Linked DNA regions of Homo sapiens. The protein of the gene in region 1 interacts with the protein of each later gene in a pairwise test. Each region holds a gene or a part of one and is shown on either strand. Other genes may lie near its edges.

What was found. The genes of interacting proteins can lie anywhere in the genome.
Region 2: the proteins of MARCHF6 (region 1) and MSMO1 interact in a protein complementation assay, tested with the Homo sapiens proteins (one study listed by BioGRID).

The regions. Positions count from the first base shown.
Region 1 is NC_000005.10:10,405,236-10,413,387, forward strand, and holds part of MARCHF6 (E3 ubiquitin-protein ligase MARCHF6), read left to right. Parts: intron 1-322; coding exon 323-442; intron 443-1,866; coding exon 1,867-1,967; intron 1,968-4,903; coding exon 4,904-5,041; intron 5,042-6,097; coding exon 6,098-6,302; intron 6,303-8,039; coding exon of another isoform or gene 8,040-8,057; exon of another isoform or gene 8,058-8,152. UniProt on the Homo sapiens protein: Endoplasmic reticulum membrane-associated E3 ubiquitin ligase that plays a critical role in mitigating endoplasmic reticulum stress, the regulation of cholesterol and lipid homeostasis, and ferroptosis.
Region 2 is NC_000004.12:165,337,093-165,343,664, forward strand, and holds the end of MSMO1 (methylsterol monooxygenase 1), read left to right. Parts: intron 1-696; coding exon 697-845; intron 846-1,559; coding exon 1,560-1,686; intron 1,687-3,128; coding exon 3,129-3,283; intron 3,284-4,658; coding exon 4,659-4,854; 3' UTR 4,855-6,072; downstream 6,073-6,572. UniProt on the Homo sapiens protein: Catalyzes the three-step monooxygenation required for the demethylation of 4,4-dimethyl and 4alpha-methylsterols, which can be subsequently metabolized to cholesterol.

The DNA.
Region 1 (8,152 bases):
AACCCTTTTACGATAGTAATGGTTGTATTTATTTTTCGTCTCAGAGGTCTAGATTTCTTGACACATTGGACCCAATGAATGTTTTTTTTTTCCCCCGCCCCTAGTGAATGATGATGTCAAAGGACATCATCAGACACAGGGTAGTTTTCATAAAGATTCTGGTTTAGGAACTTACTTTCCTAAGAATACCATGTACATTTTCTGGGGCCCACTTTAGATGCCAGAATAATTCTAAGTGCTTATCTTTCTGTTAATGTTTTAGCTCATATATAGAATTTGAAGACATTGGTGAATATTCATAGTATTTAAAATATATTTGCAGGTACTTCGACCTGGTGTCCTGTGGTTTCTAAGGAATTTGAATGATCCAGATTTCAATCCAGTACAGGAAATGATCCATTTGCCAATATATAGGCATCTCCGAAGATTTATTTTGTCAGTGGTAAGAAGATGTTTCCATTGTTTTTTTTTTTTGAATTAATTGTGCTAACCTATAGTTTTGTTTAGGTTTTTTTTTCCAGTTCTCAAGCAGGCTGATAGAGTATATTGAATAATATATTTATCTAAGCCTGTGGTATTCAGTTGTCAAGTAGCTGTGTTATTGGTTACTTTGTTAAAATAAATATGTAAAAAGATATTTACTAAAAGGAAGATACTTCCTTGTTCCATAGTAGTATAATTCAGGGGTCCCTAGCCCCCATGTTTTGGCTGGGTACTGGTGCATGTCCCGTTAGGAATGGCCGCACAGCAGGAGATGGGCAGCGGTCAAGCAAGCATTACCACCTGAGCTCCACCTCCTGTCAGATCAGCCTTGGCGTTAGATTCTCATGGGAGCGGGAACCCTATTGGGAACTGCGAGTGCGAGGGATCCAGATTGTGTGCTCATTATGAGAATCTAATGCCTGATGATCTGAAGCAGAACAGTTTCATCCTGAAATCCCGTTGAAAACTGTTTTCCATGAAACTGGTCCCTGATGCCAAAATGGTTGGGGACCACTGGTATGATTGATTGCTAAATTACGGTTGTCTGAATTACGTTTAATTTGCATTGAAGCAATGGAGACTTACTACTGGCTTGTAAATTAAACTCTTAACAGAAGCATGTCAAAGTTTCCCCACCCAGAAGAAGAAATTACATAGTTAAATCTAATTTCTTTCTTTTTTTTTTTTTTGAGATGGAGTTTTGGTCTGTCACCCATGTTAGAGTGCGGTGGTATGATCTTGGCTCACTGCAACCTTCACCTCCCTGTTTCAAGCAATTGTTGTGACTCAGCCTCCCAAGTAGCTGGGATTACAGGCGCCCACCACCAAGCTCAGCTAATTTTTGTATTTTTAGTAGATGCGGGGTTTCACTATGTTGGCCAGGTTGGTCTCGAACTCCTGACATAGTGATTCGCCCACCTCAGCCTCCCAAAGTGCTGGGATTACCTCACCCAGCCGTAAATCTAAGTTTTTCTAAAATAAAATTCTTAAAGTAACATTATGTCCTTTGAAAGCTTTTGTAGCCATTAACATGGGGCAAGTCTTAGCTGGTTACAAGTGATTTATTAAGTTGCAGGCATTTCTGCTTCCTCATTTTAAGTTTCCAGCTCATTCCTTAGGTAGCAAGTGGTGATTATCCTTTGTGGCTTCCGTTTTAGCATTTGTGTCCTAGATGGGAGGTCCTTACAGGAAGAGGGGCAGGCATCTTAGGAAAACATTTTTATACAAAATGACTCAAAGATAATGTGTAGAGTGGGAACCGCTTGGGCTTTGAGTAGACACAGGCCTGGACTGCATATTGCTTGAGTGTGCTCAGAAGTCTGCCTGTCTTGCACAGGAGTGATTGACTCTTATAGTGGTGTCATACCCTGTTTCCTTCTGCAGATTGTCTTTGGCTCCATTGTCCTCCTGATGCTTTGGCTTCCTATACGTATAATTAAGAGTGTGCTGCCTAATTTTCTTCCATACAATGTCATGCTCTACAGGTAAGTTTTAAAAATTTAGAATAGCTTTACTAATTTATCTCTATTAGGGATTTGATGTTCAGATTACATTAAACATTTAAAACATTTCTTATAGTTACTGGAAATCATCTGACAATTAAATTTTGCTTTATTTTACCTTTATTTTTATTATTTTTTAAATTAAATTTAATGTTTAAAAAATTTTCTGGACCTTTTCCACTTTGCATAAATTTTGCCTTATTTTAGATCAGATAAACATTAGTACTTACATTTTGTAAAGGAAGATGTTTATTTTTTCTGCGCATAAAGTATGCATTTGCACACCATTGAAATGTTTTACCATACCTAATGAGAGTGTATTAGCATCATCTTTATTTTGAAAAGCACATTATAAAGAATAAAGCCAGAGTTGCACATTTAATTATTAAAAATAGGGTACAAGGCTTGTAGATGGAACATCTTTTTTGCTTTAAAAACTTAAGTGGGCTAAGGCCAGGCGTGGTGGCTCACGCCTGTAATCCCAGCACTTTGGGAAGCCGAGGCAGGCGGATCACCTGAGATTGGGAGTTTGAGACCAGCGTGACCAACATGGAGAAACCCTGTCTCTACTAAAAATACAAAAAAATTAGCCATGCGTGGTGGCGCATGCCTGTAATCCCAACTACTCGGGAGGCTGAGGCAGGAGAATCGCTTGAACCCAGGAGGCAGAGGTTGCGGTGAGCCGAGATCGTGCCATTGCACTCCCACTTGGGCAACAAGAGTGAAACTGCATCCCCCCCCCCCCAAAAAAAAAAGCCATCCGGAAACCTCCCACTACCAGTAATCTTTACCACTCATCCTATATGCTCTTTAGGGATTTGTATTATCCCCACAGTCATTATCCCAATTGCAGGCAAATTGGATTATTTCCTCAAGTTTACTTCTAATGAGTCTTTAAAGTATTGCCAATTCTAATTTCTTAAAATCTCTTACTAATCTAACTCGATTTGCCACTTACTTAATTTAGGCCTTCCTCTTGCTCTCCATTCATCCGCAACACCTCTGCCTCTAGATTTTCTAGAACTTGGATTATTTTACCCCTGTGTTTAAAAGTTGGCAGCACTTCCTCTGTAATCTATGTGATATATACACCATTTAGAATGAGATGCAAGACTTGGCATAATCTCATGTTGCTTTTTCAGTGTCTTGTCTCAGCATTGACTGACTTCAATTCTTTTAATTGTGCTACACTGCCATTGAGGCTCCCCTGATTACTTAGCTGTTTGTCTTTTTCTCTCTGTTTACAATGACTTGCTTGTCCACGTTTGAGTGGCAAGCATTTGATATTCTTTTTAAAATCCAGATTAAGGTTTTTAAATTTTATTTTATTTTTTATGAGAAAGAGTCTCGCTCTGTCACCCAGGCTGTAGTGCAGTGGTATGATCATGGCTCACTGCAGCCTCAACCTCCTGGGCTCAAGTGATCTTCCCACTTCAGCGTCCCGGGTAGCTGAGACTACAGGCGCAAGCCACCACACCTGCCTAATTTTTGTATTTTTTGGGGAGACCGGGTTTTACCATGTTGCCTGTGCTGGTCTTGAATTCCTGAGCTTGAACCATCTGCCTGCCTCAGCCTCCCAAAATGTTAGGATTACAGGCATGAGCCACTGTGCCTGGCCATCATTCCATCCTTTAAAATTGTCTTCATCGTTGTATTTCTTTTTATAGCATTTGTTACATTACTTTACAAATATGTATTGTTTTATCCCAGATGGCAGAAATCATGTCTTATTTAGGTCTTTTTCTCTCTGTCTCTCTTTTTTTAATTTAAAAAAATATTTTGTGGAGACAGGGTCTGACTATATTGCCCAGGCTGGTCTTGAATTCCTGGCCTCAAGCAATCCTTCCACTTTGGTCGCCCAAAGTGCTGGGATTATAGGTGTGAGCCACTGCGCCCAGCCTCTTATTTGGATCTTAATGCTTTGCATAGGAACATGATTGTTCAAAAATAAAAGGTTTACTCTACACATAGTAAAATCTCAAATTTGTATTTTATTAAATTAGAATTGGAAAATACTTATATCCTGATTATTTAAAGTGGCAGAAAAAATGCCAGTAAGGGTATAGAAAGTGGGCAGGATGGGGTTACAATTTAGGAATAGTGACTGGTAAAGACCTGAGGGGGTGACAGTTGAGGAAAGCCCTGAAGGAGTTGAGAGAGTGAGCCACGTGGATCCCTGAAGGCAGAATATTCTTGCAGAAAGTAGGTGCAGTGGCACCCAGGTCTGTTTGAGGATCTGCAGGGAGGCAAGTTTGTCTGTAGTAGGAGGAGGAAGGCAAAGAATTGGCCCTGAAGTCAGAAAGGTCATGGAGAGCCACCTCCTAGAGAGTCTTACACGACATAAGCACTTTGGCTTTTGCTTGAGTGAATTGAGGAGCTCTTGGAAAGCTTTGAGCAAAGGAGTGATCTAACTTAGGTTTAAAGAGGATCATTCTGACTGCTGTGATGAGAGGAAACTGGGTTGGAGTGGCTAGGTCAGAAACAGGAAGCCAGCTGGGAGGATAATGCAATGATCCTGGTGAGAGGTGAGGGTGGCAGAGATGAAGGGGAGGTAGCAGTGGAGGCCTTGAGAAATTTTTAGGATATTGTTAAGGTACAGTCAAAAGGATTCTCTAGCTGTTTGGATGTGAGGTGTCAAAGGAAGGAGTGACCTTTTGTGTAACATGCTACTAATATAGCAAGTGAGGAGAGAACCAAGACCTACCCATCAGTTTAGCAAAATGAAAGTCTTTGGTGACCCTTATCAGAAACAATTTGGTGGAGTTTGTGGGGAAAGCCTCACTGAGTTGGAGAGAGAATGAAAGGAGAGGTAATAAAGACAGTAAGTTTATTAGATTCTTAAGAAGTTGCGTTGTAATCCCATTAAATAGTAGTCATATGCAAAATACAATTCACATTATAAATCCTGCCTCTTTCAGTGATGCTCCAGTGAGTGAACTGTCCCTCGAGCTGCTTCTGCTTCAGGTTGTCTTGCCAGCATTACTCGAACAGGGACACACGAGGCAGTGGCTGAAGGGGCTGGTGCGAGCGTGGACTGTGACCGCCGGATACTTGCTGTGAGTATGGGCAGCTGACTCCTTGGACATGCATGTCATTTGTGACTATGGAATAACCTTTCTGGAAAAAGTATGTTCCATGGCCCACTCAAGAAAAATTAGTTTTAATAAGAGACAATTTAGTAATATTTGCAATTGCATATAATACTTCTAAATGAAATTTTTTTTTCTTATTGTCCATCCTTTCATGGAGAATATATACATCTTTTTGCCCTCTTATAGAAGTTTGCTGCTGGTCCAGCTTTCATGGAGTAAATGTCTTTTTTTTTTTTAGTGCATTAAAAACAAACCAGTTTACCTTTATTTAGACCAACTAACTTACCTTTATTTAGTGCTCATAACCTGGGAAATGGGTTCTTCTCAAATTTGATTTCTCAATCTTCTAGTGAACATGTTGCATTTTTTTCCCCAAGCTTTATATACTCTATATTTATTTAAAAGTTGAATCTTTAAAAGTTTTTCAGTTTGGCATCTTGTAGGTATCTTAAAGGTGAAGTACAGATTTGGTTATATTTGCTTGAACATCTGTCGTCCTCTAACTGCTTCCTCCCCCAGTCTCATTTCTGACCTAACTGATTTATAGCTTGGAGGTTTTACAAATTTATAGCTTGTAGCTACATGTTGCAGTAGTCATCTGTAGAGAAGATAAGAAGTTTTTCTTTTCCTCCTGTAGATCCTTAACAATATTGTACATTGTAAGTATGTACTTACACCTTGTGCTTGTAAGTACTTACCTCTTGTACTTACAAGTGTACTTGTAAGTATCTTGTACATTGTACTTTTTTCTTTCAGTTACTGATTTCTTCTCAGATACTGGCTGAAGAAAACGTAAAATAGGTTGAATTTATGGGATATCCTACAAGTTCATTAACATTAGAAAGGTTTGATTTAAAGTGGGTACAAACATTTAGACCAAAATTAGGTAATAATGTGGTGCACAAATTCTGTATTATACATTTTCTACCCTTAGTAGTAAATATGAAGAAAATGAGTGTCATGTCTGCCATTTTATTGTGACCTGAAGTGAGACTTGTTACTGATGTAATTTTTGCACAGGGATCTTCATTCTTATTTATTGGGAGACCAGGAAGAAAATGAAAACAGTGCAAATCAACAAGTTAACAATAATCAGCATGCTCGAAATAACAACGCTATTCCTGTGGTGGGAGAAGGCCTTCATGCAGCCCACCAAGCCATACTCCAGCAGGGAGGGCCTGTTGGCTTTCAGCCTTACCGCCGACCTTTAAATTTTCCACTCAGGGTAGGTGCTATACAGACTTAATCACATATAGAGGTTTTTTTGGTTTTTTTGTTCTCCAAATTGCTGTTGAGAATTGGTGCTATTAGTATGCAGTCCTCTGTGTAGACATGTTCCACATTTTATTACCCTCATTATGTAACGTAAATGATTAGGTAAGTTTATCAAATTTTAGAGATAAGTCAAAGAGTTGGGATTCCCTGGGCTCTTGCTCCCTATTTAAGAGGAAAAGACTCTAGAGTAATTAAGAAACTAACATTATTGATACATTTCAACAGTGTGTCAGGAACTAGAATGGGCATTTGGATGTTTTCTCATTTAATCTCCACTCAAATACTGCAAAGTGTAGGCGATAATTTCATGTTTATAGCTAAGGAAACTGAAGGCAATATTGGTTAAGAATGTGCCTATTACATGTTCGTTAGCAAGTGATCAATCTTTGTGCACCTCAGAATTTTGTCAGAAATGTAAGCTGATGACTGCTATATGATTACAGTGAAGTCATCATTTATATCAAGTCTGTTATTTTAAAATGCCCTTTAATAATGACATGGGCTTGTGAGTCTGATCATTTTAAAACTTGGGCAGGTTATTTAACCTCTCAGCCTCACATTTCTTTTTTTGTAAAAATAGTCATTATTATACCTTTGTAGATTACTGTGGGTCACATGTGTTCAGTCATTCAGCAAACATGTCTTAAGTGTCTATGATTGATATTTTCAGTGTCTGTGAGGATATAGAGAGCATACGTGGTCTTTGCTCAGAAAGAGCTTACAGTCTACTCAGATGAGAAAGACAGTGGCAGATTTGAGCTCTCATGCTGGTGTTTACAGTGGGTGCTGTGACTCCTTCAATCAAGAACCACTTGTTCTTAATATGGACCCAAAGGAATCTTCCTAGAATAGGTGGTGCCTGAACTGTCTTAAACATTGAGAGACCTGTCAGAGAGTGAAAAAAAGGAAGTGGGAAGGGCATTCCAGGAATATGTCAGGACTAGGGCACATTAGGCATGGTGGGCTTAGAATTGCAGATAAGAGAGTTGTGTTGTTTTGTTTTTGAGACAGGGTCTTGCTCTGTTGCCCAGGCTTGGTTGCAGTGTGCGATCATGGCTCACTGTAGCCTTAACCTCCTGGGTTCAAGCGATCCTCCTACCTACTCAGCCGTCCGATTAGCTGGGACCATGGGTGCATGCCACTACACCTGGCTAATTTTTATATTTTTTGTTGAAATGGAGTTTTGCTATGTAGCCCAGGCTGTTCTCAAACTCCTAGTTCAAGCAGTCTGCCTGCCTCGGCCTCCCAAAGTACTGGAATACAGGTGTAAGCCACTGCGGCTGGCCTAATTGAATATATTTAGAGGGTGAGGTGTATGTCCAGGAGAGGTGAGGAACAAGGGGAGAGATGAGGGGCCATGGGAGTGGTGAGGGATAAGGTGGGGAAGAGGTGAGGGACAAGAGGAGTGGTGGGAGATAACGCTCTTGAATGGGCAGGAACCAGATAATGGAGCACCTTGAGCACCCTCTGCATGAGTCCACACTCACTGAATTGTTCTTCTGCTCCTTTGTCCCCTTGAGGGGCATATCTCTGTTCCTGATTCAGTGGCTTATTCTAGAGGACTTTGCTGCATAACCTTGAGGAAAGCATGAAGGTCATCTTTTCCTTTATCTCTTAATAGCAGATCTCATAGTCAGCTCCCGTTTTTCCCCCTTGGTCTTTACTCAGCTCTCTCGCCTCTCCGCAGACAAAAAAGGCCTTCTGAGCAACAGTTACTTTCTGGCCAGATCAGAGACAGACTCAAAAAATGACTTTTCACACAGTTACAGCTGACAAAGCCTCAGAGTCTCCTGGGTTTTG
Region 2 (6,572 bases), on another chromosome or scaffold:
CCCAAAGCACTTTTTTAAGTGCAGTCCTATAAATTGAATACATTTAGTTAGTGTTTGTTTTGTTTTGCTTTGTTTTTTATAATGACTTGCTAAGCAAATGGGTATCCTGATGAGGTCTTAACGAACATCCCATGTTGATCTAACTTTTCTCATTTTGACTTGAATCTGTGAACTCCATAATCAGGACATATCTGTGTACTTCTCAACTCAGAGAGTTTATAATTCTGTCATTGGATTTGAACAAAAGTGCATTTATTTGTTGGAATGAATACCACTGAGTGCCTGGAAGCATCGACTTACTGTGTAAAAGGCTTCCAATGCTTCGTATACAACTTCTTCAATTGTGGACACCCAACAGTAATCTTAGCATATTATATTTCTTCTTCTCTGAAACTTCTGGTAAAAGAAGTGAAGTGAATGATCTGTGGCAGCAAAGACTGGAGAATTATTCATTCCATAGTGTTTCTTAGTTTGTTTGAGATCATCATGGCTAGGCGCATCTGTTAACAGTTTCTTCACCTGAAGTAGTGATAGTAGTTGTCAAGAATTTAGAAGGCAAAGATTCCTGAGTCTTAGTTATATAAAGTTAACATAACTGACGTAGAATTAAGGTCCAACATAAACAGAGAACAAATTAGGTCAAGTTAAACTCTGATAGCAGAGACTAATATTAGATATTGTGATTTTTCTTCGTAGGATAAGCCAGAGACATGGGAAAACCAATGGAAGTGTTTCAAAGTTCTTCTCTTTAATCACTTCTGTATCCAGCTGCCTTTGATTTGTGGAACCTATTATTTTACAGAGTATTTCAATATTCCTTATGATTGGGAAAGAATGCCAAGATGGTACGTAGATAAAAATTTGGCTTTTACACCCAATTGTGGCTTATTCAGTTAAGTTATACTTAATGTTTACCCGTTTTCTTAATTTTAGTTAATGTTTGTTCTAAACTTTGGAAGTAAATAAATAGTAGAAAAGTAAACCACAGTAAAATCTTAAAATGTTTCCATTTTTACATCTTTTAAATATTTTATTGGAAGGTGAGCTTCTAGTATCAGAAGTTTCCATAACGTCTTTTGTATGTTTATATACATGTATAAGTGCTTATGTTGACAAAAATATATTACATTTTAATTTTAAAATGAATGAAATATATGAGAATCATTTATGAGGTTTATAGAAATTGTGTTTACATGAACAAAAATATGTATGTGTATATATATATATATATATATATACACACATATATATATACACACACATATATATACTCATGCGTCACTTAACGGATATCTCTTGAGAAAAGTGTCATGAGGCAAGTTGTGTGAACATTGTAATGAAATGAAATTGGTCTAATGGGCAGTCTCTTTAACCTTATATCAAGTTATGTAGCTGTATCTGGTGGTTTTGAGAATTTATTTATGAATATATCCAATTAGGTCAACCTGGTAAGTGGGTGGGTGGTTTTATGTAATGTCTCAAGCAGTGATCCCAACTAAAAGTCTGGATAGTTTAAGTAAAAATTATTTCTTACACATTACAACATTTTTATCTTAAAGGTATTTTCTTTTGGCAAGATGCTTTGGTTGTGCAGTCATTGAAGATACTTGGCACTATTTTCTGCATAGACTCTTACACCACAAAAGAATATACAAGTATATTCATAAAGTTCATCATGAGTTTCAGGTATGTGAGAGTTATATTTAATTCTTTCTGTTAGAGGCAAAATGTCTATTTTAATTGCCTGAGCATTTTTCTAAAATTGTTGGTGACGTTTTTATTTTCTTTTCCTTTGGCATGATTATTAAGAACAATACACACACATACAAACAAGCCATTTCTACACATTGTTTTCATTATTTAAATTTCATGGTAAATTGAGATCTGAAAGAAAAATATTATATGAAAGTTCGGACTTCCATCCTTGTGGACAGTGCTACACTGGCACAGCTAGATCCTCACATTGCTAACTCCCACAAAAACAGTAACTTCTATGAGCACTGCTTTTTTTTTTTTTTTTTTTTTTTTTGAGATAGAGTTTTGCTCTTGTTGCCCAGGCTGGACTGCAATGGCATGATCTCAGCTCACTGCAACCTTCACCTCCTGGGTTCAAGCAATTCTCCTGCCTCAGCCTTTCAGGTAGCTGGGATTACAGGCATGCGTCACCACGCGTGGCTAATTTTGTATTTTTAGTAGAGACAGGATTTCACTATGTTGGTCAGGCTGGTCTCGAACTCCTGACCTCAGGTGATCCACCCGCCTTGGACTCGCAAAGTGCTGGGATTACAGGCGTGAGCCACCATGCCCGGCCAATTAGAATTGCTTTGATGTAGCTTTGTCAACTGGTTATGTGAGTATGTTTTGCATTGACCGTGATTACATGGTGTGCCAAATCAAGCCTCTCTTTATTAGAAGAACAAATATAAATACTTAAGTCAAAATTAGAGTTCAAGTCAATTATTTAATGCCTTTATCTTAAACCATCAAAGACAGCAAGATTTTATATCCCTAGACTTTTGATGTGGAGTAAGGTATTTTTATTGAGAATTGCTAGTATTATTTATAAGTGTATGACTAGATAAATCATCACTACATATAGAATCAATATAACTTTGTAAAACTTTATGCATAAATAGGATATATATATTAGTGAAGTCTCCAGTGAAGCAGAATCATTGGGGTATATATATGCAGAGAGAGATTTATTTTAAGGAATCAGCTCATGCAAGTGTGCGGCTGTCAAGTCTGAAATCTGTAAAGCAGGCTACAGACTAGAAATCCAGGTAAGAATTGTTGCAGCCTTGGGTCCAAATTCCATGGAGCAGCAAGTTGGAAACTCAGGCAGGGTTTCAGTGTTGCAGTCTCGAGAATCCTTCTTCAGGAAACCTCAGCCTTTTATCCTGAAGGCCTTCAAATGATTGGATGAAGCCCACCCTCATTATGAAGGGTAATCACCTTTACTCAGTCTACTGATTTAAATGTTAACAACATCTAAAAAATACCTTCACAACAACATCTAGACTGGTATTTAATCAAACAGTTGGATATCATAGCCTAGCCAAGTTGACACATAAAATTGACCATCACAATAGCTAAGAAATTAAGAATTTCTTATCTGTTTGTCTTAGGCTCCATTTGGAATGGAAGCTGAATATGCACATCCTTTGGAGACTCTAATTCTTGGAACTGGATTTTTCATTGGAATCGTGCTTTTGTGTGATCATGTAATTCTTCTTTGGGCATGGGTGACCATTCGTTTATTAGAAACTATTGATGTCCATAGGTGAGTATTAATTTCTGTTCAGGTATAAAGCATAATGAAATATATTTATTTTCATGGCCATAAGATTATCATATTTCTAAGGAGACTAATAGGAGAAGTTAATCTTCTTAATGTTATATTAAGAAAACATAACTGTTGGATAAAAGTTTAAATAATAGATGTTTTTACATTCTAGCCTATGCTGTTATAATTTTTATAGTGATAATGTGTTATTAGGGCAAGTATATATTCAGGACCAGCAATTTCCTTATCCTTCTGTAATAAACCTAAACTTAACTCATATTTGAAAAAAATATCAAAGCATTCAGCCTTCCTTGAATAAGACTTTCTAATCTCTACTGTTCAGCACTGATAAAGGCACTTGCAAGATGAAACTACTACTTGTAACACATACATATTTCAAATGCATCCTTTCTGTTGATTGGAAGACATTTTGTGGTAAATTATTTATATTGAATGCCTTCTTAAATGCTTATCCTAATTGTTCATTATTTTTTAATTATATGTTCATTGCATTTTGACTTGGGACATACTTCTGTACTCATGAATGCAGAATATCAAATTCTAAGAATTATTTTTAAAGTGCTAAAGTAGCAAAATTAATGCTTCTAGTCCTAGGCAGAGAATATTCTTCTGTAGAAAAATTGTAATTGACATTTCTTTCTTTTTTTTTTCTATCCATTGTTTCTTTCTGCCTTCCTTCCTCTAAGCTCCTCAAAGGAAGAGAGGGTTAGAGTGATTCAAATAAGTATAACTGGATGTCTGATTGTAGATATGTAGTTGGAAATAAAGGAGCATACTTTAAATGGGACTCTTTTTTGAAGCCATTTGTCTTCTGCCAACTATAGAAAAGTACACTGGTATTTTGATTAATTGTGGTACATTTGATTCCAACTTGTCATTGCCTAAAAAAGTAAATGAAGTTGCTATACAGGGATTCATGGGCCTGCCCTTTTTAATACTTGATACTAATTTTATGTGACTTTTCCTAAAAAACATATTTAGTATTTTGGGCTTTATTTACAACTGTTATACATGATGGTGAGAAAGCTTCCTCTAAAACATAAAAGAAAATTAATTCTTAAAAATCTGTGTCTAAAGATTCATTACTATAATCCGTCTCTTCCATCATTCATATATTTTATCATAAAATAAATGATTTTCTTAGTTTTTTTAAGGATTTTTTTTCTTAGAGTGGTTTCTAGAATATACACCATTTTCTGTGTTTGCTGTTTGTGAACACTTAGAAATAAAGTGGTCTAGGCAAAGTGGCATGTTATCTAAATTGGTTAATGTGAACACATGATTATTAATAAAAACAACAATCATTTGAGATGTATTTATTCCTTAATAATCTTTATCATTTTTGTTTCAGTGGTTATGATATTCCTCTCAACCCTTTAAATCTGATCCCTTTCTATGCTGGTTCTCGGCATCATGATTTCCACCACATGAACTTCATTGGAAACTATGCTTCAACATTTACATGGTGGGATCGAATTTTTGGAACAGACTCTCAGTATAATGCCTATAATGAAAAGAGGAAGAAGTTTGAGAAAAAGACTGAATAAATATCTCACGTAAACCTTCCTGAAAGATAAACGTTTTCCTGAATTCAGAAACTAGTAGCTAACATTGCTTCTGGAGAGCAGAAATAAGCATGTCTTCTGGCTACTAAGTGATAAAAAGAACATTAACAACCTTTAATTACCTTCCTAGTGGGAACTTTTTCTACTTTACCTACAAGTTCTATATATGTAGAAATGAATAAATATATATTTAAGTACAGTTTTCATGAGGAAGTTTTAAAAGACCATGTTCCTAAGCTTCCAAGAAGGTTTTGGATACTAGAAGTATTAATCTATGGCTTTTCTCCCAGTAAAACCATAGGCCTGAAGTTCACATTGGGTCTTTAAATCTTTTAGATATATACTGGTCATTTCAGAAAATTCTTCATAGTGGTATTGGCCTTATATTTAACTTTTTTTTTATTTTTTTTTTGAGACAAAGCCACACTCTGTCTCCTTGGCTGGAGTGTGGTGGCACAGTCTCAGCTCACTGCAACCTCTGCCTCCCAGTTCAAGCAATTCTTCTGCCTCAGCCTCCCAAGTAGCTGGGATTACAGGCACCCGCCACCACGCCCAGCTAATTTTTGTATTTTTGTAGAGATGGGGTTTCACGATGTTGGCCAGGCTGGTCTCAAACTTCTGACCTCAAGTGATCTGCCCACCTTGGCCTCCCAAAGTGCTGGGATTACAGGTGTAAGCCACTGCGCCCGGCCTTTTTAACTTTAAACATGTTTTAGAATTCACCTAAAGATCAAAATATCATGGATTGAACCTCATCAATTGATAGCAGTGAGTGACTGAAGCTTCCAAATCAAGAAAAGCCGGCACCAAGAACTTCCATTCTAATCTAGAGCTGACCAGTTTGAGCTGATTCTCTCTTTGAAGAGTCCTTCTTGATTGCAGTGCAGTACTGGCATTTCTGAATGGATGTAAGTGGAGTATTTTAGTCTAAAGGCTTTTCAAATTACTTGAATTTTTTTAAAAATTGAGGAGCTTTATTTCTATTTACCCTTCCATTTTTGTATATCAAATTTCCATTGTCATTAAAAACTGTATCTTGAAACTTTGTGAACTGACTTGCTGTATTTGCACTTTGAGCTCTTGAAATAAATGTGATTTTTGTGTGATTATCTGGTTTCCAGTTTTAAACATTAACTGTCACCTTTTATTCTTAAACTTGAAAGTACAGAAATCATTAAATTATTAAGTTGTACAATAAAAGGATTGGTTTCTTTTCTTTTTTTTTTTTTTAAGTGCTTCCTTTGCCGAAATGTTTCCTGGCTGTTTGAACATGAATTTTTCAGGTTTAAGTATTGTGGGAAATCATCTTGACCTAATAAAGCAATACATACTGAAGCAGTTCTTTGCCCTGCTTAGATAATGTATGTTTTCTGTACAGTTGAAGAATAGAGCTAAACTTTTCAGGGCTGATAAAATCTCAACTATCTAGTTTGTAACTCATCAAGGGTTGGGAATTCTTAGTATGTGGTGTTAATTATTTTTATTTTTTTAAGCTGCGGAGTCATTATCTGGTAACTTCCTTTTTTTTCTTTTTCTTTTTTTGAAACCTTACACGGTAAAGATGTCCAGGTGTAAGGGATTCAGATACTTAAAACTGAGAATGTTTTGTTTGTAGGTCATGCTTTATACCTTGTATGTGGTTCATATGCCCACGTGTGTGTGTGTGTGTAAATTTGTTGTAATCCTCAAGCAACAAATTT